Homo sapiens: one gene and its partners. The protein of the gene in region 4 purifies or fractionates together with the protein of the main gene of each other region. This does not show direct contact. Each region holds a gene or a part of one and is shown on either strand. Other genes may lie near its edges.

Region 1 (7,370 bases), on a different chromosome or scaffold from region 4:
TTATGCTGCTGTTTTTTCTTACCCAGAACATCATTTTCGGTTTGGAACCAGCATGCAAGGGGGAAGGAGCGGTGGCTCTGCTGCCAAGCTGTCAGTTAACCCTTTTCCAGGCAAGTCTCTTAACCTGGGAACCTTAGTTTCTTCTGCGCGATGGGTCCAGGGATGTTGATTATAGCAACTAAACAAACAGAAGCAGACCAAGAATAAGGCAGGCACAAGGGTGAGAATGGGAACCAAAGGTTTATGATAAATAAACTTGACTACCAAAGTCCAAAATAAAGATAAAATGGGGAGAAAAAAAGTAATGCCTGCCCCACAGGGTTATTATATGGCTGAAGTGAATTAAACTGGGTTCTGCACTCCAGGTCTTACAAGGTCTAAATCAAGGTGGTGGCTGGAATGAACTCTTACCTGGAGGCTCTGGAGGAGAATCCGCTTCTGGGTGCATTCAGGTGGCCCTGAAAGTCCAGCTCCTGGTGCCTGCAGACCTGGGGTCCTCATTCCATGGCTGGGGGCCACTCTCTGCTCCTATAAGTCACTCACACACCTTCTCACACAACCCCTTCCTCCTTCAAACCAGCAATGTTAATTCCAGCCTTTCTCACACATTGAATTTGACCTTCTTTTCTGCTGACAGCTGGAAAAGCTCCCTGCTTTCATTAGGCTCATGAGGTCAAGCCCACCAGATAATCTCTGATCTCAAGGTCAGATGGCTTGGGACTTTCATTCCTTCGTCAAAGTCCCTGCACAGCAGCACCTAGGCTAGTGTTTAACTGAACAGCCAGGGGTACGAATCAGTGGGCCCACCTTTAGAATTCTGTCTGCCACACCCATCATATCGTATCTTTCTAAATTTGCTTCTTTCAAAATTGAATAAAAGGATGAAAATCCACGCCCTCGCCAGAGGATCACAGCAATGCAGCTCATGGCAGCAATCACCCTGCGCTGGACACGTGTGGGTTCTGGCTTCAGCCTTGACGCAGAATCTGGGGTCAGGAGAAATACACAAGAGTTCTGCCTTCCTTTCACCCACATGACCTTGTGCAAGTCACCTAACCTGGCTGAGCCCGGTCCCCTCCTCGCCACAGATGGGCTGATCCACAAGAGGACATCTTTGAAGCACCCAGCACACAGCCTGGTACCCCGGCAGTGCTCAGCTGCTATGAGCACCGCGCCCACGGTCGACAGACTGTCAGACCATCTGCACGACCTTTTTTTCTTTTTAAAAACACCACTCAATCCTTGTTAGGGGCACCACGTGCTGTACAGTCGGCTCTTCCGGCACCCCCAGTCCCTGGCTAGCCCACCCATGCCCATTGCTGGACATGTGCTCAGACGACTGATCCAAGAGTCTTCCATACAGGCAGCTTCACCTCCACGTGAAGATAACTTGCACTGTGGTGCAGTTCCAGACCTCAAGGAGCTACCTGACCAGGTAGGTTCCCAAGAGCAGACTGCCTTTGGAGCAGTTCCTGAAGTGGCCACGAGGTGGCAGGCCTTTCCCTGGCAGATCAGAGAAATCCCGCAGTTCCAGATACAGACACAGGGCAGGGCATGGCCTGGCCTCAGCGGAGGTTCACAGTCCCCAAGGTGGCATCCCCTCTGGGACGACCTGTGCTTATCTGTCTTGAGGCACAGCAGCTACAATTCTTCATCAGGATCGGAGCTGCAAGACGCCCATCTGATTCCTTCCGAGCCCCAAAGGAAGGAAATGAACATGTTTCTTTTTTAAATCTCACAACAAATAATGTCTCAGTTCTACAGGTGAGCAGATCCAAGGTTGAAAGCAATGAAGTTACTTGGTCACAGCCAATAAGAAACATGAGATACTGTTTTGTTTTGTTTTGTTTTGTTTTTGTTTGTTTTTTGAGACGGAGTCTTGCCCTATTGCCCAGGCTGGAGTGCAGTGGTACCATCTCGGCTCACTGCAACCTCTGCCTCCCGGGTTCAAGCGATTCTCCTGCCTCAGCCTCCCGAGTAGCTGGGATTACAGGTGCCCGCCACCATGCCCAGGTAATTTTTTTCTTTTTTTGTATTTTTTTAGTACAGACGGGTTTTCACCATGTTGGCCAGGCTGGTCTCGAATTCCTGACCTCAGATGATCGACCCGCCTCGGCCTCCCAAAGTGCTGGGATTACAGGCATGAGCCACTGTGCCCGGCCGAGACACTTTTAAATTTTATTGCAGAAAGGCTGGGTGTGGTGGCTCACGCCTCTAATCCTAGCACTTTGGGAGGCTGAGGAGGCCGGACTGCTTGAACTCAGCAGTTCGAGACCAGCCTGGGTAACATGGTGAAACCCCGTCTCTACTAAAAAGACGAAAAATTAGCCAAGCATGGTGGCACACACCTCTAATACCAGCTACTAGGGAGGCTGAGGCATGAGAATCGCTTGAACCGGGAGGCAGAGTTTGCAGTGAGCTGAGATCGCGCCACTGCACTCCAGCCTGGGCAACAGAATGAGACTCTGTCTCAAAATATATATATAAAATAAAATAAATTTTATCGCAGAAAACTACAAACATATGCAAAAGAAAATCGTCATAACTCCTATGGCATTCATCACCCAGCTTCAACCGTTACTAACATTTGCCACTTGTGTTTCACCTGTCCTTGAATTTTTTTTCATGGAGAATTTACAAAGCGAATACCAGACATAGGGGCAATTTGCTGTAAATACTTCCGTTTGCATCTCTAAAGGTTAGGACATTTTACCCACCAGCCGTTACTGCTCCCTACCAAAAGTATCGATACTCCCAGTTTTCATCTAATACCCAGCTTTATATTCCAATTTCCCCCACCTATCTCTCAAATGCCCCGTTTAAGCTAGTTTATTCTATCATGATCCAAGTAAGTTCCACACATTCCATTCAATGACGTCTTTTAAGCTCATTTATTCTCTAATAGTTCAGTTCCACTTTCTTTTGTTTCCTCCAGGCTCGAATTAATTATATTATCATCATAATTATACTATTATCTTAATTATTGGTATTAATTGACACGGTCATTTGTCCTGTACAACATCCCATTTGGGGTTTAGCTGTTTGCGTCTTTCTGCAAGGGGCATATTACCTGGCAAACAGTAGGTATTAATCAGCATGGGTTGAATGGTTTCAATGGCAGAAAAGCAAAAGAATAAAGGTTTGGTCCTTTACTCAAGTGGTCCTACATTCACTAATGTAACAAGCAGGCAAAACTCCGCTTGAGAAGCCACCAGCTCGCGCCCTGGGATCCTGGGGAGGGCATGGGCTCCAGCCCTGGGATCCCGGGGAGGGCACAGGATCGAGCCCTGGGATCCCGGGGAGGGCAGGGACTCTAAGTCTGGGATCCTGGTGAGGGCACGGGCTACAGCCCTCAGATCTTGGCCGCCAGAACTGCACTCCAGGCCACGCGGTGCTGAAGCGGGAGCCAGGCCCTATCTCCTGCGGGAACCCCGCTTGGGGGCCGGCACCGGGGCCATAAGAACACGCGGCCCTCTGTTCTTGGGGGTATGCGCTACAGCAGCATGGACCTCGGTCAGGTTATGAAAACGTGTGCATTTATGAGCTTTAGTTGTGCCCCAATGTTTTCTATGCGCTGTTCTTAGTCTGTTTTTCGTGTTTTGAGAAAACTGAAGATAACAGAAAGGTACAAAACACACGCCCATATTCCCATCATCCAGCATCAAAACCGCCAACATTTCGTCCCATTTGTTTCCCGGGTTTTGTTTCCTGTTTCACCAGAAATCACTGGTGGAGACGGAGACCCCAGTGCCTTCTCTCCGCCTCGGGCGCCTGGAGAAGCAGCTTCGGGGTCGGGGCGCCCTCCCAAGCGGTTGCCTCCGCGGTTCTCAAGCAACTACGCCGCCGTTTGGGTGGCGCTCGCGCCGAGACTTCATTTTCATTTAGCAAACATGGAGTGCTCCGCGCCGCTCTGGAGCCGGGGTGTGAGGGTGAACAGGGCTCCCCACGCTCGTTCCCAGAGCAAAGGAAGGCCCGCGGTGTCAGCGCAAGGGCGGGTGCGGGCCGGGAAACGACAAGCTGCCGCCTCACTCCTACCCAAAACCAGGCTCTGAAGTCCCTCCCGGCCCGCGACGCGCGCGCCCCACCCCGGCGCTGGCCCCGCCCCCTCACGCTGCCTCCTCATTGGCTCCTCCCGGCATCGCCACGCCCACAGGAGGCTCCTCCCAATGCTCACTTCACCTTTCACCTCTTCAGGGCCTCCGGTACGCCTCAGGCCCCGCCCACCGGGGGGTGGGGAAAGATGCTCTTCCGTGACCCACAATTATTGGTGACTATTGCCTGTCCATAACAGGAAAAGCGATTACGGATTGGCTGAGGCGAAGTAGTAGGGCAGAAAAGTGGGTATAGCTGCCTGCACGCACGCTTGGTGCGTGCGCGGCGACTGCGACGGGCAGTGGCAGTCATGGCGGCTCAGTGCGTGAGGTTGGCGCGGCGCAGTCTTCCTGCTTTGGCGTTGTCTCTCAGGTAAGGGGCACTTGGTCTCCCTGGGTGGAGGTGGCAGCGCGACCTCCCGCTCCGATGGGGGCCTTTCCCGGCCCCGGGGCCTCCTTCCCGGCCTCGGCCCCGGAGCTGGGCATCTCCGGGCTCGCGGTTCCCCGCCGCGGGACGCGGACCGCCCCGCTGGGGCCTGCTCTGCTGCCAGGCTGCCAGCTCAGGGCTTGGGAAGCGTGGAGCGGGCGGGCGCCGTGTCAGGAGGAGAGGACCGCAGCGCGGGGGGCGTTTGGCTCGGAAGGTACGGTGGCCCACGTGCGCGTGTGGTCCAGGGCCTGCGGCGACGCCTCGCGCGCATTCACGGTCTCGGCGCTCACGGGCGCAGAGGCAGCCGCAACTTGTGCGGTTGAAGAAGCGACCAAAGAAGCTCGAGCTTTGTCCAAGGTCACGCAGCGAGGCCGAGCCGGGCCGGGTGTGCCCTGGGCAGGAGCTGTGGTTACTCATTTCCGTGCCGCAGCTCGAGGCCGGGGCCACAGCGGTGCTCGGGAAACTTCGTGTCGCAAGGTGCGTGTTGCCCGTTCACGGGCTTTTTCCACTCGACCTCGAATTCCTTCACTCCGCCTTCTCCAGCGTCTGAGGTCAAAAGAGCAGTCGAACCTGTGCTGCTGCTGGGCGAAGAGTTTGTTTAGACAAGGGCACATTTCGGGCCTGAGGGCCACGAGACAGTGCCCCTTTTTTTTTTTCCCCTCAAATCTGCCCCTTCTGCTTTTTGAAAGTTCTACTTTAGAAGTTAGTATGGCAAGTACTTGCTGGAGGAAGTGCCTAGAACCAAGTTATTGATTAGAGAAGCCACTGAGGGCCAAATTGGCCAAAAGCTGGGCAGTGAGATGTAGTTCTTTCCTGAAGGAGAGCAGGCAGGTGAGGTGAAGATCACTTTCAGTCTAGGTGATTAAGGGGTAAGTGCTAGCTTAATAAATTATATCTTAACAACACAGGAGCCAAGAGCAACGACCCACGTGGAATACTTGAGTAAAAAGACTTTGGTCAAGTAATTGGTGGTTTTGTATTGGAATTAATTGCCAGGAAAGTGACCACCAAGTCAGCATCATTTCTGTCTCTAGAATGGTAGTTTTGTGGAAAGATGCTCAACTAGGGAAAGGCAGGAGAACTGACTGGTAGTCATAGCTCTCAGAGTAACTAGGCTTTCTGAGACTCAGTTTCCCTCTGCAGAACGAGATGGCCCCGGGTGTGGGTCCTGTTGCACATTCCTGGCCACACTTTGTGTTGGCTGTGCTTCGGAAAGGGGTCTGTGAAGAGCTGACCTGCAGAAAGGCTGGTGGCTGTCACACCCCCAGGCAGAACAACTGGAGAGGAAGGTGGGCTTCACAACAGTACACTCAGTTTTTATTTAAATTCTTAGCTTTTTAAATTCACAAGAGTAAAAATATAAAATGGTCATCGCTCTCCACCCCCATGGCAAGACTGTAATGGAGGCTTCCACTCCACTTCTTTCCACAGATCTAAGATATTAATAAGTACACAGGATTTCTAGTTTGTCTTTACAAAAATAGGATCCTGTTTTGTGTATTTCTCTGTAAGTTGCATTTCTTAACAGAACATCCAAAGTGTATCCAATAAATGGCAGTTTAACTCATTTTTAGGAGCTGCATAATATTCCAGATTGTGTTAGCAAGTTTATTCAACCATTTGCTCGCTGACAAACATTGTTTCCAACTTGTCGCTCGCAGTGCTGCAATAAACAGCCTTGACTGAGTTCTGTGTGCTGGCAGCCTTCACCTTCCTATTCGTTGAAGCAGTTTTAATCTGGGAAGAAAATTGAATGTAGCTTATTCTCAGATAGGACTGTGGCCTAATTTAAAAAGAGGTCCTGGCCGGGTGCGGGCGGATCACGAGGTCAGGAGATCCTAGACCATCCTGGCTAACACAGTGAAACCCCGTCTCTACTAAAAAAATACAAAAAAATTAGCCGAGCGTGTTGGTGGACGCCTATAGTCCCAGCTACTCGGCAGGCTGAGGCAGGAGAATGGCGTGAACCCGGGCGGCGGAGCTTGCAGTGAGCCGAGATGGCACCACTGCACTCCAGCCTGGGTGACAGAGCAAGACTCCGTCTCAAAAAAAAAAAAAAAGAGGTCCTCTGGTCCTGGTGAAGAAATCTAGGTTTTAAGACTTTATTTTATCATTCGTTGATGGCTTTGTGACCTGGGCTTATCACTTGGTCTTGGTCTATTTCACCGGTACATATCCCATGCTTTCCTGTCTTCATGCCTTTGTCCAAGCAGTTTCATCTTCCTGAAGCTGCATCTATCCCATTGTCCCACCTCTGATCCCTTTTTCGTAACTCTTACCTATCCTACAAAGCCTTTCATGGTTTTCCATTCCCCAAGCTAGGTATCTCCTTCTACTCTGAGCCTCCCAAAGCACAAAGCACTTAGTTCCCTTTTTTTTTTTAATCACTTTTTTTTTTTTTTGAGACAGAGTTTCCCTCTTGTCGCCCAGGCTGGAGTGCAGTGGCGCGATCTCAGCTCACCTCAACCTGCGCCTCCCTGATTCAAGCGATTTTCCTGCCTCAGCCTCCCAAGTAGCTGGGATTACAGGCATGCACCACCACGCCAGGCTAATTTTGTATTTTTAGAAGAGACGGGGTTTCTCCATGTTGGTCAGGCTGGTCCCGAACTCCTGATCTCAAGTGATCCACCTGCTTTGGCCTCCCTAAGTGCTGGGATTACTGGCGTGAGCCAGCGAACCTGTCTTAATCACTTTTAAATCACAAATTACTGTTCTTTGTGTTTAGATACCTTTTTTTTGCAAGATCTCTGCTGGGTCTATCTTTGTCATCAGGATCAGCAGTAGGCCAGCCTCACTCTAGTAGTAGCTATTCCATAAGTACGTGGTTAGGTCTGGGCAGACTGTCTCAGTCA
Region 2 (7,536 bases), on a different chromosome or scaffold from region 4:
GTAGCGTAGAGTAGACTTTGTTCTGGGCCTTCACATTCACTCCTCAGTGACCCACGCAGAGCAACTTCCTGTCCCAGAAGCTCCATTCATGGTAAGCGCTTTATACAGACAGGTGTATCATTCTTTATTTTTTATTATTATTACTTTTTTTTTTGAGACAAGAGTTTCTCTCTGTCACCCAGGCTTGAGTGCAGTGACACTACCTCGGCTCACTGCAACCTCTGCCTCCCGGGTTCAAGCAATTCTCCTGCCTCAGCCTCCCCAGTAGCTGGGAATACAGGTGTGTGCCACCACACCCGGCTAATTTTTGTATTTTTAGTATACACAGTGTTTCACCGTGTTGGCCAGGCTGGTCTTGAACTCCTGACATTGTGATCCACCTGCCTCGGCCTCCCAAAGTGCTGGGATTACAGGTGTGAGCCACCTAGCCTGGCATACTTTTTTTGGTTTGTTTTTTTTTTTGAGATAGAGTCTCGCTCTGTCGCCCAGGCTGGAGTGCAGTGGCACGATCTCAGCTCACTGCAACCTCAGCCTCCGGGGTACAAGGAATTCTCATGCCTCAGCATCCCAGGGTAGCTTGGATTACATATCTTTATGTGATGCATGATTATATTTGCAAACCATACATCTGATAAGGGGTTAATATCCAAGATATATAAGTACTTAAAACATCTCAGTAGCAGCTGGGCATGGTGGCTCATGCCTGTAATTCAAGCACTTTGGGAGGCGGAGGCGGGTGGATCACCTGAGGTCCGGAGTTCAAGACCAGCCTGGCCAATATGGTGAAACCCAGTCTCTACTAAAACTACAAAAATATTAGCCAGGAGTGGTGGTGGGTGCCTGTAATCCCAGCTACCCAGGAGGCTGAGGCACAAGAATCACTTGAACCCAGAGGCGGAGGTTGCAGTGAGCCGAGATCGTGCCACTGCACTCCAGCCTGGGTGACAGAGCAGGACTCTGTCTAAAAAACAAAAACAGAAACAAACAAAAATCTCAATAGCAAGAAAACAATGTGATTTAAACAACACGCAAAGGACCTGAATAGATATTTCTCAAAAGAAGACATACAGCACTTTGGGAGGCTGAGGCAGGCGAATCGCCAGGTGAAGAGATCAAGACCATCCTGGCCAACATGGTGAAACCCCGTCTCTACTAAAAATACAAAAATTAGATGGGCATAGTGGTGTGTGCTTGAACCCAGGAGGCGGAGGTTGCAGTGAGCCGAGATCGAGCCACTGCACTCCAGCCTGGTGACAGAGCCAGACTCTGTCTCAAAAAAAAATAAAAAAAGACATAAAAATTTCTGGCAACTATCTGAAAAAATGCTGAACAATGCATGGATCATCTGGGAAATGCAAATTAAAACCAAAATGAGATACCACCTCACACCTGTCAGAATGGCTTATAAAAAAAAGACAAGGCCGGGCGTGGTGGCTAACGCCTGTAATCCCAGCACTTTGGGAGGCTGAGGCAGGTGGATCACGAGGTCAGGAGTTCAAGACCAGTCTGGCCAACATAGTGAAACCCCATCTCTACTAAAAATACAACAAAATTAGCCGAGCGTGGTGGTGTGCACCTGTAATCCCAGCTACTCAGGAGGCTGAGGCAAGAGAATTGCGTCAACCTGGGAGGGGGAGGTTGCAGTGAGCCAAGATTGTGCCATTGCACTCCAGCCCAGGCAACAGTGCGAGATTCACCCTCAAAAAAAAAAGGAGATTCTGTCATTTGTGACAACATGGAAGAACCTAGAGGACGTTACGGTAGGTGAAATAAGCCAGGCACAGAAAGACAAACACGACATGGTTTCACTTATATTCGGAATGTAAAACAACTCATAGAGGTGGAGAGTAGAATGATGGTACCAGAGTCTGGGGATTGGTGGGAGTTGGGGCGGTGGGGAATGGGGAAATGTTGGTCAAAGGGTACAGTTTCAGCTAGACAGGAGGATTTTTTTTTTTTTAATTTGAGACGGGGGTCTTACTATGTTGCCCAGGCTGGTCTTGAACTCCTTGGTTCAAGCAATCCTCCCACCTTGGCCTCCAAAAGGGCTATGATTACAGGCCTAAGCCACCATACCCGGCCCAGGAATGTTTTTTTTTTAGAACTATAGCATGGTATGGCCAGGTGCGATGGCTCACACCTGTAATCCCAGCACTTTGGGAGACTGAGGTGGGTGGATCATCTGAGGTCGGGAGTTCGAGACCAGCCTGACCAGCATGGAGAAACCCTGTCTCTACTAAAAATACAAAAAATTAGCTGGGGATGGTGACACATGCCTGTAATCCCAGCTACTCGGGAGGCTGAGGCAGGAGAATCACTTGAACCTGGGAGGCAGAGGTTGTGGTGAGCCGAGATCACGCCATTGCACCCCAGCCTGGGCAACAAGAGCAAAACTCTGTCTCCAAAAAAAAAAAACACAAACTACAGCATGGTCACTATAGTTAATGTATATTTCAAAATTGCTGAAAGTAGCTGGGTATGGTGATACACCATAGCCTGTAGTCCCATTTACTCAGGAGGCTGAGGCCCACAGATCACTTGATCCCAGGAGGTCAAGAACAGCCTGGGCAACAAAGCAAGACCCTGTCCCATATTTTTTTTTGAAGCAGAGTCTCACTCTGTTGCCCAGGCTGGAGTGCAGTGGCATGATCTCGGCTCACTGCAACCTCCGCCCTCCAGGTTCAAGCAATCCTCTTGCCTCAGTCCCCCAGTAGGTGGGATTACAGGCACGGTCCACTATGCCCAGCTAATTTTTGTATTTTTAGTAGAGACAGGGTTTCGCCATGTTGGCCAGGCTGGTCTCAAACTACTGACCTCAGGAGGGCTTAGTGGCTCATGCCTGTAACTTTGGGAGGCCAAGGCAGGAGGATCACTGGAGGCCAGGAGTTCAAGACCAGCCTGGACAACATAGCGAGGCCCCATCTCTATAAAAAATTTAAAAGTTAGCCAGGCATCATGATATGTGTCTGTGGTCCTAGCTACTCGGGAGGGTGAGGCAGGAGGATGGCTTGAGCCCAGGAGGTCAAGGCTGCAGTGAACTGTGATCTTGCCACTGCACTCCGTGTGGGTGACAGCACAAGACCTTATTTTCCTTAAAGGAAAAAAAAATGCTAAGAGTGGCTGGGTTGGGTGGCCCATGTCTATAACCCCAGCACTTTGGGAGGCCAAGGTGGGTGGATCACAAGGTCAGGAGTTAGTTCGAGACCAGCCTGGCCAACATGGTGAAACCCATTCTTTACTAAAAGTACAAAAATTAGCTGGGCGTGGTGGCGCGCGCCTGTAGTCCCAGCTACTCAGGAGGCCGAGGCACGAGAATCGCTTGAACCAAGGAGGCGGAGGTTGCAGTGAGCCTGGGCGACAGAGCGAGACTCCGTCTCAAAAAAAAAAAAAAATTAGCTGGGCCTGGTGGTGCGCGCCTGTAATCCCAGCTACTTCAGAGGCTGAGGCAGGAGAATCACTTGAACCTGGGAGGCAGAGGTTCCACTGCGCGGAGATCACGCCATTGCACTCCAGCCTGGGCAATAGAGTGAGACTCCGTCTCAAAAAATAAAAGTCCTTAACCAGTCCATATTTCTGAATATTTTGCTTATTCCTGCCGGCAGTGTAATACTCTGGTGAATATTTGCGTTCGAGATCCTTGCATTCCCGAGATTTCCCCAGCTCAGCCCTCTGCGTGGGTTGAACGGTATGAACCTTTTTAAGGCTTCGCTTGTACTGTACTGTCAAGCTGTTTTTTGGAATATTCGCCCCAGGTTTCTGTTCCAGCCAGCAGCCAGCATCAGCCGTCTGCATCCTTGTCCTCAAACTGCTGTTAATTAAAATCTTTGCCAATCTGGGCCGGGCGCGGTGGCTCACGCCTGTAATGCCAACACTTTGGGAGGCCGAGGCCGGCGGATCGCCTGAGGTCGGGAGTTTGAGACCAGCCTGACCAACATGGAGAAACCCTGTCTCTACTAAAGATACAAAATTAGCCGGGCGTGGTGGCGCATGCCTGTAATCCCAGCTACTTGGGAGGCTGAAGCAGGAGAATCGCTTGAACCTGTGAGGCGGAGGTTGCAGTGAGCCGAGATCACGCCATTGCACTCGAGTCTGGGCGACCAGAGCGAAACTCCGTCTCAAAAAAAAAAAAAAAAAAAAAGAAACCTTTGCCAATCTGGTAGAATTGCGGGGCTTATTTTATGGTGTCATGGAGGATAGCCTAGGGCCAGATATACCTGGGGCCCTGTGCCTGCTCTGCGAACTAGGAGCTCACTCTCCGAGCGGTGTAGAGGGTGAGACTAAGCAGTGACAGTAAAAGCTTTCGACAGTGCTTGACCCTTCCGCGGAGCGTATTAAGCAGGAGCTCCCTGCGCAGGCGCAGAGGAGAGAGTGTCTCCCACCCCACGACCAGCAGGGGGCCTGCGAGGCGGGTGCGGAGCCAGGCCTGATGGTGGCCAATCGCGAGCTGAGGCGACGATGCCACGCCCCTCATACCGGCGTCTTAAATGCGCAAAGAAAGGACGCCGGGGACACCCGGTTGGGCTCTGCTGCTCCCTTCTGGGTTCCGAGGCCCAAGCCCTTGGCAGTGTTTGTGAGTGGAAGGGAGGTCACGCTATCGTCCGCGGCCCCAGCAGCCCTGTGCCCTCGTTGGATCCCGCGACGCGGCTCCTTTAAGAGCCTCGCGGGTCGCCCGCCGCTAGGTCGCTCCCCGGCCATGCGGGCGCTGCGGGCCGGCCTGACCCTGGCGTCGGGCGCGGGGCTGGGTGCGGTCGTCGAGGGCTGGCGGCGGCGGCGGGAGGACGCGCGGGCGGCGCCGGGACTGCTGGGCCGGCTGCCCGTGCTGCCCGTGGCGGCGGCAGCCGAGTTGCCCCCTGTGCCCGGGGGACCCCGCGGCCCGGGCGAGCTGGCCAAGTACGGGCTGCCGGGGCTGGCGCAGCTCAAGAGCCGCGAGTCGTACGTGCTGTGCTACGACCCGCGCACCCGCGGCGCGCTCTGGGTGGTGGAGCAGCTGCGACCCGAGCGTCTCCGCGGCGACGGCGACCGGCGCGAGTGCGACTTCCGCGAGGACGACTCGGTGCACGCGTACCACCGTGCCACCAACGCCGACTACCGCGGCAGTGGCTTCGACCGCGGTCACCTGGCCGCCGCCGCCAACCACCGCTGGAGCCAGAAGGCCATGGACGACACGTTCTACCTGAGCAACGTCGCGCCCCAGGTAGCGCCCGCGCCCCGGGCCGGTCGCGGAATGCGGGGCCGGCGCCTGGCCTCGCGGGGCCTCGGTTTGTTCTTCTGCAGAACGGGGCAGCTGCCCAACGCGCCCCCGGTCAGGCATCGCAGTGACATCCCGTGGCGGGAGGGAGGAGCACTGGGCTCCAGGCACAGGGTCTGCAGGCCGACCAGGGCTTGAGCTTCAACTGCGAACCCTGGGCACCTCCCTGAGCGTCGCTTTCCTCGTCAAAAAAATGGGGATAATACCGTTATTCACCTTCCTCCTGCGGTAGTGATGAGGCGCTGAGGCTCACAGAGGCAAAGTGACGGGCACAGTGTCACACAGCAGAAGAAGGCTGTCTGTTGTAGAACCGCAGCGCCCAACCTATTGGGCACCAGGGTGCGGTTTCGTGGAAGACAGTTTTTCCACGGCTTGGTGGGTGAGGGCGGGTTTCAGGATAATTCAAGTGCGTTACATTTATGTACATTTTATTTCTATTATTATTACATTGTAACATATAGTGAAATATACAACTCACAGTAATGTAGGATCCGTGGGAGCCCTGAGCTTGTTTTCCTGCAACTAGACAGTCCTATCTGGAGGTGATGGGCAACAACGACAGATCAGGCATTAGGTTTTCAAAAGAAGCGCGCAACCTCCTCACATGCGCAGTTCACCATAGGGTTCCAGCTCCTATGACAATCTCCAGCCGCCACTGATCTGACAGGAGGCGGAGCTCAGGCTGCTGTGGGATCAATGGGGGGGTGGCTGTAAATACAGATGAAGCTTCCCTTGCTCGCCTGCTGCTCACCTCCTGCTGTGTGGCCCGGTTCTGGTACCGGTCTGTAGCCCAGGGGTTGGGGACCCCTAGTCTATAAAACCGTGAGCCTCCAGACATTGTCCTACCCTGCCTGCCTTCAGGCAGTTTCGAGGCAGACACCTGGCCCACGATCAGGTTGTTAGTGCCAGGCACTGTGCACTGGGCCAACCACCCTCTCAGCCTGTTCCCAGCAGGTCCTGGCACCAATGGATGGAGACTGCCATGGGGCTCTGGGTGGAGCCCATGGGGCACCAACCTCTGACCCAGCTTCCTTCTGGGAAGACAGCCCCCTATCCACTTTCCATTGTCCCAGGCCTGGAGAGCTCAGGATGGAGGTCGATTCATGGCATTCCCCGCTAGGCTCTTCCTGTGGCTCAGACTGGGAAAAGGAACGGGTTGGTAGTTGGAAGGGCTGGTCTTCCCAGGAGACCCTGGGTGGGGCTGGGGACAGGCCTCAGTCCTCTCTGAAAGGTGGAGACAGGCTCTTCCTTCATTCGACTCTTGGGAGCTGAGAAAAGACTTTGACACCTGGGCTGTGGGAGGGACAGAGGGTGGTGGCTAGCACTCTATCAGCCCTGGGTTTCAGGGAGTGACTTTCATTCCTTGAGCCTCAGTTTCCCCCCGCTTGTCTCACTGGATATCTCTGAGCCTGTCCATCCCCTCAGGACCTGGGGCGGCCCTCTGATAGAGGAGGAAGGGTCCCAGCCACAGTCCTGCTAAGCCCTATCTCTCCTACCAGGTGCCCCACCTCAACCAGAATGCCTGGAACAACCTGGAGAAATATAGCCGCAGCTTGACCCGCAGCTACCAAAACGTCTATGTCTGCACAGGGCCACTCTTCCTGCCCAGGTAAGGTGGAAACCAGGGGGGCGGCAGAACCTCCCACTCACCTGAGGCCCCTACTGCCACTCACAGGGCCAGGCTTGCCCCAGGCTCTGGGTCAATACCAGTTCCCTACTCATCTGGTTTCTTGGCAAGCCTGTCAGCTTCCCTGCCTCGAGTCCCCTCATTCCACCTCCACAGCCAAAGACCTGTCGGGTACCCCTGACCATCTCTCCTCTGCCCATGGGCAGCAGCAGGCCCTGAATCTGCCCCCGCTTCTCCCTGCTGTCACCTCTTGGCATGCCCACCCAATCTTGTTCTGCCAATATGGAACCCCCCGCAGGTCTGCAGTGCACCAAGCTCTCCCACCTTCCCCCCGCAGGTCTGCAGTGCACCAAGCTCTCCCGCCTTCCCCCTGCAGGTCTGCGGTGCACCAAGCTCTCCCACCTTCCCTCTGCAGGTCCGAGGTGCACCGAGCTCTCCCGCCTTCCCCATGCAGGTCCCCAGTGCACCGAGCTCTCACGCCTTCCCCATGCAGGTCCCCAGTGCACCGAGCTCTCCCGCCTTCCCCATGCAGGTCCCCAGTGCACCGAGCTCTCATGCCTTCCCCCTGCAGGTCCGCGGTGCACCAGGCTCTCCCGCCTTCAGTCTCTGCTCTGCTTGGAGCACTTCCCTCCACCCTTCTCGGGAGTTTGAATCTAGATCT
Region 3 (7,346 bases), on a different chromosome or scaffold from region 4:
TGCCTCTACTAATAATACAAAAATTAGCTGGGTGTGGTGATGTGCGCCTGTAATTCCAGCTATTCGGGAGGCTGAGGCAAGAGAATCACTTGAACCCGGGAGGCGGAGGTTTCAATGAGCCAAGATTGCACCACTGCACTCCAGCCTGAGCGACAGAGTGAAACTGTGTCTCAAAATAAATAAATAAATAAATATGAAACGCTTCATGAATTTGCATGTCATCTTTGTGCAGGGCCACGTTAATCTTCTCTGTATCATTCCACTTCTAGTATACTGCTGCCAAAGCAAGCACGAAATATTATTTTGCAAAAGAATTAGAACCCAAGAGAATACATTTAACTTGACTGCGCAAACACAGTCTAGTGTTTAGCAGATCCCCGGGCCGCCTTTATAAACTTTGACTCCCCCATTTGTAACCAAGACTGCTCAGGCCGACTGACCTAAGAACACCATGGATCATGGTTACATTCATCCGCCCATCGATACTGGCCCCTGTGCCCACTCACCAGATCAGGAGGACCATGGCTGCTCTTTCCGGGAGAACCTGCAGAGAGTAAATTCTGACAACGCTTCACTGAAGGCGCCAGATAGCAGGAGAGCTTATTCTCAGCCTAACTCAGAACTGATGCCTGCTTGCCTGGCTTGCTGCTGGGAGCCGCAGGTTCCCTTCCCCAGCGAGGCAGTGGGGAGCAGGAAGTGTGTTCCAGTCCTTGAAGTCCACGTGGCAACTCCCAGGGCCTAGAGAGAGTCAACACTGGGGCACCCCAGCCTTCCCAGCCTCCCCATGGCACCCTCCCACTCTCCACTTCTTGTCCCGGCCTCTGCCTCTCCCTGCACAGTTGGCAGGTGAAATATCCACTTCTTTCTGGAGAAACTCCATATTTTATCTACCAAGAGGAACGTCACATAAAAACACCAGGGTCTGATGTCATTCATTTTTCCAGATTTGGGGGTTTAGTTGAAAATAACACCACTCACGGCCATTACCAGCCTAGTTCAAGAGCCCCATTGGCCCCTCCGGGTCCCCTTCCCCAGGGACTTCTCAGCATTTGGGGAGGACGAGACCCTCCTGTCTTATTCCTTGGTGCAGCCCAGAAAAGGGCGAGAGAGGAAGAAACACTCATCAGCCATCTCCTACGGTCCAGGTGTGTGTAAACACCAGCATTCAAATCTGGGCAGTGAGCCCGGAATCCTCTCTACACATGCATGAAACAGAAGGAGGCGTTCAGAGAAGCAAGACTGTGATCTAAGGCACAGAAGAGACGGGCAAGAGGAGGAGGAAAGTGAGCAGACAGGAGTGCACGGGTAATGTGGCTCGCCCAGAGCACCAAGTCATGAACGCCATCACTGCCTTCGACCCAGGTGAGGGGCCTTGTCCTTGCCTGCCCCCTCCCTACAGGGCCACTGGGATGAGCCCACAGCTCCTAGATGGCACCTCAGCCCCCCGGACCTCAGGAGTCCCTGCCCAGACCTCCCCAAACCTACTCCTAGGGCCCCTTCTTCCCGCAGGGTGGCCTGGGATGGCTGTGAGTGGCTGAGGACTGAAGTGTCCACAGGCATGTACTGGAGACCCATCTCGGCGTGGGACAGAATTGGAGGTGGGGAGAAAGGCGGGTGTTGAAAGTGAGGACTGCAGGCTGAGACCAGCCCCCGCACTTCCACGCCCTGATGCAAATCAACGAGGAGCCCAAGAAGTCTACCGATTTCTTTTTTATTTTATTTTATTTTATTTTTATTGAGACGCGGTCTCACTCTGTCACCCTGGCTGGAGTGCAGTGACATGATCACAGCTCACAGCAACCTCCACCTCCCAGGTTCAAGCAATCAATCCTCCCACCTCAGACTCTGGAGTAGCTGGGTACAGGCATGTACCACCATGCCTGGCTAATTTTTTAACTTTTTGTAGAGACAAGGGTCTCACTATAATGCCCAGGCTGGTCTCGAGGTCCTGGGCTCAAGCAATCCTGCCATGTCAGCTTTGGAAGTTTTGGGATTACAGGCGTGAACCACTGTGCCCGGCCTAGCCTGAGAATTCTAAACTGGAACCTGGCTTTCCAGATACCATGGTGTATTTTTTAAGGTAGGAGAAGAGAATGTGTCCTCTACGCTTTTTTAAGTTTGGTTTGCGGCTTGTGTGCATTTGGACACACCGCGTCACAAACAGCCTCGCCCAGGAGGAGTGAGGGCCACAGATCGGGAGGGTAGGGGGCCCAGAGCCTGGAGAGCCCCAGGCCGGGCTCACAGGTCAGGGTTTCACCTGCCGGCTCCCAGAAGGGAGTGGCCAACAGACACCAGGGAAGTCAGGGTTGGGATTCAAAGAGAGGCCAAGGCTGCAGAGAGACTGGGAGCCACTTTAGGAAAGAAACGTGAATTCAGGCTTTGCACAGCAGAACTGTCCCCATGTCCTGGGGAGGCCTTGGTTCATTCTGCGGGGAAATCCCTTGTGTCTTGCGGGGCCCCGCCTCTGATGAGAGGGAAGGGAGATAAGCTTTGCAGGGGGAAGGTTTCCTCCCGGTCTCCTCACTCTTCGAGCACTGAGTTTCTCCAGACAAAGCGCACTCCGCGGGCACCAATCCCTGCAGACAGCGCAGAGCGCACAGCGAGCAGGAGCCCAGAAACCAGCAGGTCGGCTTGTCCCTTGTCAAATCCAAGTGACAACGGACTTCCGGAAGCCACGCTGACACCTACTTTCTGGCTCGATCAGACCCCTGGACTTAAATTCCAGCCCAAGGGCTAGCACTGAAAGGGTGGCTATTTCAGCAAACGACCAAAGCTTCTAAAGTAGACACTTTCTTTTAAACCACTTGATGGCTGGATTTCTTAGAGAGAGAGACTAAAGCTGGAGGAAGGGTTCTTCCAGGGATGGCACAGGCCCTCCGCTCTCGGGCTCCCCACACTAGACTTCGGGCCGGCAGGATGGGTTAAGGTAGCACTCGTTGGAGTCAATAATTAAGCAATGGAAACAAACAGCCTAAATAAGGGTGTTGAGGACTCAGGAGAAGGTGGCTGATTAATCTCAGGCTCATAGTTTGAAATGGGAGCGCAGGGGCTGGGCTGTGGCCTCCTCATCTGCTCCCTGGGCGTGTGGCTGTGTAAAGAGGTGTGGGGACCCACAAGAAGGCCGAGGAGCAGCACTGGGGTGGAGAGAGCAGTGGGGAGGCGGGGACCCAAGGGTTAAAAAAAAAAATTCCTCAATTTGGAAACATTTGCAAAACTCCAGAAGAAAAACTTTTAAAAGTTCTCCACTCCCTTCCAAACGTACAAACATGCACACACACAATTAGGAATTTCCCAAAGTTTTCATCTGTCTAAAAAGAAAGTGCCAGTGCAAATTACAGAACATCGTCGCTTCCTCATGTGCGGCGTTTCTACGGGCCTGGGAGGGGACGCAGAGGCTACCCCGGTGGTCCCAGCCTGCAGCGTTCACGTGAGGAAACTTCCGCAAAAGCCCTGATGCATGCACATTCTGACTGCAGAGGCCAGAGCATCCCGCATTTTGGAGGCTGAAAGGCTCCCCTAGGATAACCTTTTCCGTTAACAGAGGAGTCCGCTGAAGCGCAGAGCTAACTGAAAACAGCTAGAATTAAAATCCAAGTCACCCGGCCGGCATCAGCAGTCATTCCTTTCCACCACACAAAACTGGCCAGGAAGACGGACTCTGGCGCGCCCTCCCAGGCCGAAGCGCATTTCTTCGCTAACGCGCGAGGAGTAGGCTGCATAGACCCGGCGCAGGAGGTGTTCATTTTCGGATCCAGCCCTGTAGTCACTTTAGCTAAACCCGGTTCCAAAGGGGTGGGAGTCGTCGGAGAGGAATGGCCTCTGTATCTCCGGAGACGGAAACACCAGGACGAAGAGGCCCTAAGAACGTGTGCCCGGGGTGCGACCGGGGGGTGGGGGGCAGGGGGCAGAGACCCTGAAAAGCTCCACCGCCGAACCCCAGGGCAGTGTCCCGGCTTGGCTGGACTGGGCGCGGGCGGCTGCAATGCTCCCGGGCGCGGCGCTGGGACCCCGCGGGCCACGTCGGCTCCGCTGCCCCGACGCCAGGGCCCGACTCGCGTCTCCCTCTGGCGGGGCACCACAAGGGGCAGCGAAACGGTGGTGGGGGCGGGCGCCGCGCTCCTTCCCGTCTCCTCCCCGCCAGCTCCGGGCCCGTCCTTTTCCGCCCGGCTCCCGGCAAGGGTCCCCCGACTGGCGCCCGCGCGTCCTCCCTCGGCTGCTGCAGGCCGGGCCGCGGCGTCGAGCGGGGGCGGCGGGGCGGGGCCCGCAGCCATTGGCGAGCGGCGGGGCGGGGGCGGGGGCGCGGAGGGTCGGCCCCGGGACGCGCGCAGCCGGCCCGCAGTTGCCGCTGTCGTCCGCAGAGCCAGTTCCTAGCGCAGAGCCGCGCCCGCCATGAGGGAGATCGTGCACATCCAGGCGGGCCAGTGCGGGAACCAGATCGGCACCAAGGTGGGCCTGGCGCGGTGCAGGGCCTCTCCGCGGGTCGGCTGCTGGCGGGCCCCGGGTCTCCCGGCGCGACCCCCGCCGGGGCGCGCACCCGCTGTGCGCCCCTGGGTCCTCGGAGCCCGGTGCGGACCCGCGAGGGCCGCAGGGAGGGAGCGCCCGGGGCGTGGCCGGCCGGGGACCTTCTACTCTTCGCTCCCCACCCCCATCCCAACTGGGAGCGGCTGCCGGCGGCTCAGGCGCGCCTGGAATTCGGCCGCCGGGGCGCCTGGGGTGGGCGCGGGTGGCGGCGTCCCGGGCTCTGGGTTCTGAGCGTCTGTCCCCCCGCCTTGCCCTGCCCAAGTTTTGGGAAGTGATCAGCGATGAGCACGGCATCGACCCGGCCGGAGGCTACGTGGGAGACTCGGCGCTGCAGCTGGAGAGAATCAACGTCTACTACAATGAGTCATCGTGTGAGTAGCAAGGCCGCCGCGCCCTGCCCGGCCGGGACCCGCGTGGACGCTCCGGCGCCGCCTCTTAGCGCGGCGAGTTTGCTTCGGGAAAAGTTCTCTCGGGGTGTAGCAGGATGCCCGGCCACTCCCTTCGCTCCTCCGGGGCGGGAAATCCGCCGTCAGTTTATTCAAACAGCTCGATTCAGCCTATCCTGAGGGTCTGAGCGCTTGAACGGGACCACCCGTTAGCGTTGTGAAATCAACGTAGCGGTTCCTGCCCAGCCTTCTCTGTCTAGCCGGGCGCGGTGGCTCAAGCCTCTAATCCCAGCGCTTTGGGAGGCCGAGACTGGAGGATCATTTGGGGCCAGGAGTTCAGGACCAGCCTGGGCAGCATAGGAGACCACCCCCCGCCCCCCTCCCGCCCCGATCTCTACAACAATTTTAAAATTAGCCGGGCTTGGTGGCCCACCCCTGTAGTACCAGTTAACTGAGGGCTTGAGCTCAGGAGGTCGAGGCTGCAGTGAGCTGTGATCGCGCCACTGCACTCCAGCCTGGGTGACAGAGCGAGACCCTGTTAGAATAAATTAGAGCGTTTCTCAAGGATCCTTGGGAAAAACAAAGCTTCCCCCCCCCCCCCCCCAGTTTAAAACGTATCTCTTATTGGGGATTCTTGGCTAAAAATTTGAGAAACGCTCTCTTAAGTGACTTTTCTGGTCCCTTGCAGACCTCTAAAAAGACTTTAACCTCCCTGGAAGCTGAAACTCCAGGCAGTTCTCAGCAACGAGTGGAGTTTTATTCATTTACGCAGCAATGACAAAAGGCTGGGAACATCAGGGCATGGAAGATGAAATTTCTAGAGGACACTAAGGATAGTTCCAGTATACACTGCACTTCATGTTAATCCCTCACCCAGCTTGGGTACATCCATTTTCGATCTTGGCGAGTGCACTGCAGGACAGGAGTTGAAGAGCAGGTCCTATCTGGAATCATATTAACCGTGTCCTCACCGGGAACAAGTTCTAGCCCAATTGGCATGAAATTTCCACACAAGAACACTCTGACTCAAAATGAGAGTGACTCTGGGGAAACAGCCAGTGGCGTGCTCCGGGTAACAAGGTTCTCAGACTGCACATGGGCACATGTATGTGTATGCATGGGGGAGGTGTCACAAAGCAGAGAATTTCATCCAAACCTGGCAATTTGCTGTAAATACCTAGTTTATTTCCATGGAGCTAAAGTTGTAAAACTTCCTAACAGGAAAGAGGTGTCAGGGTGAGCTGGAAAATACAGTAGGCAGGAAGTCAGGGGACTTGATTTCTCATCCTGCCTCTTCCTGGAACCTCCTCTGCCAGGTCATGCCTGGACTCGTTCCTCATTCCAGTGTTAAGGTTCTAGGATTTTTTTTCTTTCTTTTTTTTAAGAGACAGGGTTTCGGCCAGGCACGGTGGCTCACCCCTGTAATCCCAGCACTTTGGGAGGCCGAGGTGGGCAGATCACAAGGTCAGGAGATCGAGACCATCCTGGCTAACACGGTGAAACCCCATCTCTACTGAAAATACAAAAAAAATTAGCCGGGCGTGGTGGTGGGCACCTGTGGTCCCAGCTACTTGGGAGGCTGAGGCAGGAGAATGGCATGAACCCAGGAGGCGGAGCTTGCAGTGAGCCGAGATCACACCACTGCATTCCAGCCTGGGCAACAGAGCGAGACTCCATCGCAAAAAAAAAAAAAAAAAGACAAGGTCTCACTCTGGAGTACAGTGGCATAACCATGGCTCACTGCAGTCTTGACCTCCTGGGTTCAGATGATCCTGCCACCTCAGCTTCCAGAGTAGCTAGGACTAGAGGTGCACACTACCACACTTAGCTAATTTTCTTGGTTTTTTGTTTGTTTGTTTTTAGAAACAGGGTTTTGCTCTGTTGCCCAGGCTGGTCTTGAACTCCTGGGCTCAAGCGATCTGCCCACCTCAGCCTCCCAATGTGCTGAGATTACAGGGATGAGCCAGTGCGCCCAGCCAATTCTGTGATTCTAAGAAAGTTCCTGTACCCTTTCTGAAAAGACCCTGGTTGATCCATTCCAGGCAGCTAGAACTGGTGGGACTTGAAACGGGGAAGTCAATTACTTTAGAAACCTGAAAGTAACTCTTGTGGGTGGTTCTTTTCTCCTCCAGCTCAGAAATATGTGCCCAGGGCCGCCCTGGTGGACTTAGAGCCAGGCACCATGGACAGCGTGCGGTCTGGGCCTTTTGGGCAGCTTTTCCGGCCTGACAACTTCATCTTTGGTAGGTTCCATCTTTCTCACTTTCTTCTTCTTCTTTTATTTTTTTAAATCAAATATTTTATATGCCAGATTTAAAGCATCATGTGTCATAGAAAAAGTGTGAATGGAAATCAGTGGTTCCCAGCCCCACCCCTCCCATCCCTAGCTGGGTTCATCACAAGGAACAGTTTTTTTTAAATCTTGACTTTTTTGGTGGG
Region 4 (7,028 bases):
GAAGGGTGAAGAGAAGACTGGGAAACAAGAGGAATTCATGGCACACCCAATACATGTTGTGATACAGCTCACTTCCCTGACATCTAGTCTGTGTATCTCACGATTAGCACCCAGACAGCATTTCCAGCCCGTGTGGAGCACCAGCTCTGCGCAGCCTCACCTTTTTCAACATGTACCTCGATAATCTTCTTCTCACGGATCACCTTGGCCCCGCTGCAGCTCTCGCAGCGGTCCTTGGGGTTGATGCGCTCACCCTGGCCCTTGCACTCGATGCACACGGTCTGGATCTGCTGTACCATGCCCGGCCCGATCTGCTGGATGTGGATCTGCATCCCCCGCCCCTTGCACAGCGGGCACTTCTCCACCGATCCCTTCTTCCCACCAACACCTGCAGGGTCAGGGGAGGCAGGAATGAGGGCCATGCTCTTCCCTTACCAGTGTCCCTGCTGGGCGCCATGGCAGAAGGGTAGGGAACCCTCACATTGGACAATGGGCTTAGAATTCTATTTACAATAATAAAAAACAATGCAGAAGAGTCTGGAGGAGTCCAGCCAAGCAGACAACATCCAGATGTTAACATCTGACCTCAAACGTTTGTGATTTTGGCTGCACCAATCCAAATTTATTACTTTAGCTTCATCAAATGTGTTTTCTTCCACCCCAGGTGGAACTCGCATAGGCCCACAGATGAATGAGGAGGCTGGGGCTGTGGCGATCTAGACAACACAAGCTCTGTCAATAGTGGCAGCTACCCAGCTCAGCCAATTCTCTCTGTGGGACAATGTGAGGCTGGGGTCACCAGACATGGCTTTTCTTGAAAACTCAGGTTTTTTAAAAATTACAATAATTATATATACATTTAAGTCAGGGGTCAAGAAACCATGGCCAGACTGCTTGGTTTTGTAAATAAAGCTTTACTGGAACATAGGCATGTCCATTCATTTATGTACTATGACGGCAGAGTGAACTAGCTACAAAAGACTCCATGGCCTGGAAAGCCTAAAATCTGGCTCTTTACAGAAAAAGTCTGCCAACCCCTAGATGAGGTCAAGTGTCTGATTTTTAATTTTTAAAAATAATTGTCTGTATACATATGTAACAAACCTGCACGTTGTGCACATGCACCCTAAAACTTAGAGTATAATAAAAATAAAAAATACAAAAACATAAAAAGAAATAATTGTCAACATGTCAAATAGAGGTGCAGCCCAAAGAAAACATTCATTCAGGCAAAGAAGTGTGGCCCTCAGGCCACCTGTTTGTAATCTCTGCTTGACCCTTGCATTTGAAAAAAGATAACTTATTTTCCCTGAACTATAAAACAAGCATTGTTTCTGAATCTAAGGGATCAGAACTGTGCGGTTCAGTCAAAAATTAATTTTTACCTTCACATTTCTCACAAATTACATTTTTCTGGAGGGCCAATTTCTTCGTGACTCCATTATATAGATCTTCAAGAGTTACAGATAACTGGTGTACAACATTCTTGCCTTAGCAAGGGAGAAAAAAAATTAGTGGCGTTGAATGAAATATACCATTGTATTAAATACCACCCATATGACCCTTAGTTGTATGAAGTCTCCAGAGACTCAAGACTGTGGCTGGGTCATGCGCTCCCTTCCCTGCAGGAAGCAATGCTTCTATTACCCCAGCCCATCCTTCTGGCCCTCAGCCAATAACAAGAGCTAATACCCTCTCTAGCTATGAGCTAATTATTCAATCATTTATAGAGGCCAACAAAAAGACTTTCCACCTTTATTTTCTGAGAACAAATCTGAGGACAAGGAGAGTACTAATTGAGAAACCAAAGGCAGTATTAACCCACGAAATTGGTTAAGTTTCCCCATGAAAGGAGTCCTTTCTATACATAAATGTTTGGCAGCCAAAGTCTCTGGATCTTTCACTTCCTTGGGCATAAAGCACTTTACTTTCTGAGCCCTTCTGTAACCGGTGGCCAAATGGGAATTCTTTCCTCTGCCAAAATCTTGCTTCTGCAACTCAGGACAGTGGGTGTTCAGTCCACAGGGTGGGGGTGTGCTCCAGCACCTGCCAGCCTGTCAAGACTGACAGCATCAAGACCCTCCCTGCTGCCCGTGGAGCTCCTGCAGTCACTGAGATGAGCTGTCCTGGTTTACTGGCTGCCAACTTTGAGAGATGACTTAATTAAGGGCATGAAGTTTTTCATCTCAAGACAGTGAGGGAGCTGGACAAGAGAATACCCAAGGTTTTTTTTGTTTTGTTTTGTTTTTGAGACAGAGTCTTGCTCTGTCCCCAGGCTGGAGTGCAGTGGTGCGATCTTGGCTCACTGCAAGCTCCGCCTCCTGGGTTCACGCCATTCTCCTGCCTCAGCCTCCCGAGTAGCTGGGACTACAGGCGCCTGCCACCGCGCCCACCTAAGTTTTTGTATTTTTTAGTAGAGACGGGGTTTCACCATGTTAGCCAGGATGGTCTCGATCTCCTGACCTCGTGATCCACCCACCTCGGCCTCCCAAAGTACCCAAGGTTTTATCATGTCCACACCATCAATTATAGGAGCAGGCGATATGCTCAAAGGACAGAGGAAGGATTTTTCCCTAATAAACACTTTGTGATTTTCAGCACTCTATGTTCACAGAATTGACACCCAAGCTTTTTCAAGCTCAAAGTCAATTACAATGTGATAACAAGTGCAGCTTCATTTATCTAGGGGCCTCTCACTGACCAAAGCCACACTTCTTAAACCCCAAGGCAGAGCTCATTTCTTCTGACTTTATCCAGAATTGTAATACGCTTGGTTATCTTTCTGGTTTCAAGATCCAAAGCAGCCTGACAACAGTAAACTAAACAGGGGGAATGGGAACTAGTCTATTAGCAACTACTAACAACAGAGGTGACAGCCCGTAGCCTGGCAGAGGTGAGATGCAGAAAAATTAGGAAGAACAAATCCCGAGAAAGTCAAAACAGTGGCCTGGGGCCATTGAGCTAAGGGCTAAGAAGTTCCTCATTCACCTCCTGGGGATGAAGTTGCTACTACTCATAATGCATTCTGAAAAGAAAGGCAGGTCATTTATAAAGATTTCAAAACATAAAGAGATGAATTTTGTTGCCTAGAAAATCCCCTGAGCAGGCTGGGAAATGAGGCCATACTGAACATGGCAAGAGTACCCACCTAGAATTAGAGAGCCTGCAGCCCACGCCCAGGTCAGGGAACATGGAGGGCCACAAAGGGAGGGTGGGCAAGAGGAGAGAGGAACACTCTCGGTAAAGGATCACTGACAACCACAGGCGGCGTCATCTACATCCCTCAGCACACTCTGGTGCCTGACCCCAACAACAGAGGAAAAGAAGGCACGATGAACTTCACCTTCCTCTTTTCTATCCACCACTCCATTCGCTACTTCATATGGTATTGGAGGGTGTCAGATAATTACTAAATTTACCAAGAGTTTCCAGGTAGCCTGAGCACTAGACAAGTGATAAACTCTTTAAAGTTAATGATCTCAAAACATGGCAATTGTACCTGGTGGGGTTTTTTGTTTGTTTGTTTGTTTGTTTGAGACAGGGTCTCACCCTGCCGTGCAGGCTGGAGAGCTCACTGCAGCCTCGACTTCCTGGGCTCAAGTTTTCCTCCAGCCTCAGCATCTCAAGAAGTAGCGGAGACTACAGGCATGAGTCACCATGCCTGGCTAAGTTTTTTATTTTTATTTTTTTTGAGATGGGGAGTATCACTATGTTGCCCCGGTTGGTCTTGAAATCCTGGCCTAAAACAATTCTCCCACCTTGGCCTCCCAAAGTGCTGAAATTACAGACATGAACCACCGCGCCTGGCCCAATCATATCCTTTTAAAGCATGATCTATCCTGATTCCAACAACACGTATAATTGTGGAAACCATACAACTTATTTATGTTTCTTTAAAAGCATTTACCTCTTCTCTCTCTAGCCATCCGTCCACCACCACCAAAGAACATGTCAAAGATGTCCATGGGTGAAGAGAAGCTGGGGCTGCCTGAGCCTCCTTCTTTAATTGCCTGCTCTCCGCCTTGGTCATAAACATCCCTTTTCTTTGGATCTGAAAGCACTTCATATGCCTGGGATATGAGTTTAAACTTTAAAAGAGAGAGAGAGAGAGATTTTTAGAGAAGTTTCAGTTGTTTTGTTAAGCAAACCTGCCATATAAACATACAAAGTAATAGAGGTATTCTGCCCCCAAACCCTTGAACTAGCCAGTCTATACATCCTCTACCTGGAATCTGACTTGCCTGTCTACCTACTCCTTTGGTAAAGTGGGAAACACAGGGCAAACATATTAAGGGACTGGTGGTAGGGACACGATAAGAATAAGGGAGAGAAGCCAGTAGAGAGGGAAAGTTTCTCACTAATCCGGCTGCACCAGACAGGAAGTCGAGACCAGCTAGGATACCATGAGACAGTGCCAGGGGTGAACCTCTAACCAGATAGAGCCAGGACTCTGGGCATTACCACTGGCTCACCTCCTCATGGGAATCATTTCACTAGTTTACTAGAATGAAATTCAACTACAGGCATCTGTGAGCATCTAACCACGTGCCAGACATTGGATACAAACCTATACTCCTGATCCTCCCCCAAAAGCCCCGCCCCACCCATAGTCTTCCCCATATCACAGTTATTGGCAATGCCAATCTCACCTGTCAACAAATCCCACTGATGCTACCTTCACATTTGCATCTCCAGTACCCTAAGACAGACACAATATCCCATGTGTAGCATTCCTGCCAAAAAGTTACCACTGGAACCCAATTGTACGAAAAGAATCAGAAAACCCAAATTGAGAGATACTCTAAAATTAAAAGATAGAAAAAAACGAATACAATGTGTGATCCTGGATCAGATCCTGCACAGGGGAGAAAAAAAAAAATGGCTACAAAGGACATTATTGGAACAATGGGAGAAATGTGAATCTTTGTTCCCAATGTTAAACTTCTTGAATTTGATAACTTTACTATGGTTATGTACAAGGATGTCCTTGTGCCCAAGAGAAACACGCAGCACTTAGGGCTGAAAGGTTATGCTATAGGTAGCTTCCTCCCAAAATCTTTAGCCAACAGTAATAATAATAATAGATAAAACAAATGTGACAACTTATTTATAACTGGTAAAGCTAGGTGAAGAATACATAGGTGTTCATTGTATCACTCATGTTTTCTGCAGGTATATGGACATTTTTAAAATAAAATCAGAATGCGAAAACATGCAAGATCTGTTCCTTCTTACCACACCACATCCACTCTGGCTGAAGGCACCATCTCAGGCCTGGACCACTGCAGTGGCCTCCTCCGTGGTCTTCCATGTGCCCTCCTCACCCCAGCTTTCAGTGTGTTCTCCACTCGAGCCCACTAATTGGGTCGATCCTCTGCTCAAACCTCTACAAGGTGGCCCACGTCACTGGGAGTAAAAGCCAGTCCTAACTTTCATCTATAAGCCCAACTTGGCACCTGTACTTTCCTCTCCTCCTGTGTGTCCCCACCCCAATTCTATGCCAGTTTCAGCAGGCTCCCTGCTGTTCCTCAACTCTGCAGTCTGGGCCTCAGAGGCACCTCAGCCTGGTGCGGCCTCCCGACTCATCTCTTTCCAGCCTTAGCTCACAGACCACCTTCTCAGGGATGCCTCCTGGTGATCCAGCTTTAACACTGCAAACCCACCTCAGACCCTCCCAGCCCCCACAACTGCTGCATATTTCTCCATATCATGAACCACCTTCTAACAAGCTGCATCATCTACTGCTTATGCTGTAGCCCCCACTGCAACATAAGCTCCATGAAGATGGGGGGTTTTGTCCACTGCTGTCTAACTGAGCCTGGAACCATGCCTGGCATGTAGAAGGCACTTGGTAAATACCTGTTAGATGAATGGCTCGATTCTGGGAACTCAGAAATAAATAAATGAGGTAGGATCTTGGCCCTCCAGAGGCTACAGTTTAGTCGGAGAGACAAATATGGATATATAGATAAACAGATCCTATAATGCAGCTGGCTCCAAAAAATATTCAGGGAAAAAAAGTGCCATGAAATAAGGAATTTGAGAGAGAGAACAAGGGAATTTGAGGCATTAATTCCCTTGTTCTACAGATCCCTGATTGAAATCTAATAAGTAACCAATAATAATAGCTAATAAATAGCTAAAAAACTACAATTTAGAAAAGTCTTAAAAAGACATCAGCATCATATATAAGGCAGCTAGATCTTTTGATATGTTAATTCTCATACCATTTCTGCGAAGAAGTAAGTACCATTCACTACTATCCCTTTCCTCAGCAGAAAACATGAGGTAGAGTGTAAGGATTGGGTGCCTGGTACAGATCAGAAAGCAACTAGGCCAGGCTGCCCCTAGACAGTTTCTGCGTCTATCTGCAGGTCAGGACTAGGTAAATAACTTCATGGGAACGTCCACCGGAAACACTCACCAAATACCCTGGATACTCACATGTCATTTAGACTTAATAGAATGATCTAAGAATGGAAAAGGAGTACCCAGTTGCTTGGGACATTCAGTCAGAGGCCAGATCTCACATGGGATGGGGGTTCCAACTACCAGTAGGGAGTCCATCCTCTAGGGTCCCAGCACTCCAAAGTCTAATTCAGCTCCCGGCCCGGACCCCCTTCTCCCAGTGGGAGACGAGTGCTATGATGAGCTTGCCTTTCAGACCATGATCATTTGCCACAGAACCTTAACAGGATTACTATACAGCTGAGGGGAAAATGGCTTTGAAGACTACGTAACAACTTGGGAAAAGTACTTATAATAAAATATTAAGTGGAAACAAGAAAACAAAATGTCTATGTATCAGGATGGCCATGTATGATCATACTGGGGAAAGCTTGGAAAGAAGCACAGAGTGGTTAGGATAATGTGTACTTGGTAGGTTTCCCTCTGTGTTCTAAAATTTTCTGCATGGTTTGCTATGTTCTGATTTTTGAACTTGAAAGTCTATTATTCAAACTAAAAGTTACAATGAAATTGACCAAAAGACCAAACTCATCTCAACAGGGTAATAGCCAAGAATATAC

What was found.
Region 1: the proteins of DNAJA4 (region 4) and GRPEL1 purify together in Homo sapiens (affinity purification with mass spectrometry; 2 studies listed by BioGRID, with this or other methods). This does not show direct contact.
Region 2: the proteins of DNAJA4 (region 4) and ENDOG purify together in Homo sapiens (affinity purification with mass spectrometry; 2 studies listed by BioGRID and IntAct, with this or other methods). This does not show direct contact.
Region 3: the proteins of DNAJA4 (region 4) and TUBB6 purify together in Homo sapiens (affinity purification with mass spectrometry; 2 studies listed by BioGRID and IntAct, with this or other methods). This does not show direct contact.

What each region holds. Positions count from the first base shown.
Region 1 is NC_000004.12:7,065,065-7,072,434, reverse strand, and holds the start of GRPEL1 (grpE protein homolog 1, mitochondrial precursor), read left to right. Parts: upstream 1-4,370; 5' UTR 4,371-4,402; coding exon 4,403-4,464; intron 4,465-5,808; exon of another isoform or gene 5,809-6,255; intron 6,256-7,247; exon of another isoform or gene 7,248-7,370. UniProt on the Homo sapiens protein: Essential component of the PAM complex, a complex required for the translocation of transit peptide-containing proteins from the inner membrane into the mitochondrial matrix in an ATP-dependent manner.
Region 2 is NC_000009.12:128,813,992-128,821,527, forward strand, and holds the start of ENDOG (endonuclease G, mitochondrial precursor), read left to right. Parts: upstream 1-4,508; 5' UTR 4,509-4,693; coding exon 4,694-5,194; intron 5,195-5,659; exon of another isoform or gene 5,660-6,747; coding exon 6,748-6,857; exon of another isoform or gene 6,858-7,536. UniProt on the Homo sapiens protein: Endonuclease that preferentially catalyzes the cleavage of double-stranded 5-hydroxymethylcytosine (5hmC)-modified DNA.
Region 3 is NC_000018.10:12,303,904-12,311,249, forward strand, and holds the start of TUBB6 (tubulin beta-6 chain), read left to right. Parts: upstream 1-4,337; 5' UTR 4,338-4,389; coding exon 4,390-4,446; intron 4,447-4,783; coding exon 4,784-4,892; intron 4,893-7,039; coding exon 7,040-7,150; intron 7,151-7,346. UniProt on the Homo sapiens protein: Tubulin is the major constituent of microtubules, a cylinder consisting of laterally associated linear protofilaments composed of alpha- and beta-tubulin heterodimers.
Region 4 is NC_000015.10:78,267,557-78,274,584, reverse strand, and holds part of DNAJA4 (dnaJ homolog subfamily A member 4), read right to left. Parts: exon of another isoform or gene 4,650-7,028; intron 4,089-4,649; coding exon 3,908-4,088; intron 1,491-3,907; coding exon 1,386-1,490; intron 928-1,385; exon of another isoform or gene 389-927; coding exon 161-388; exon of another isoform or gene 1-160.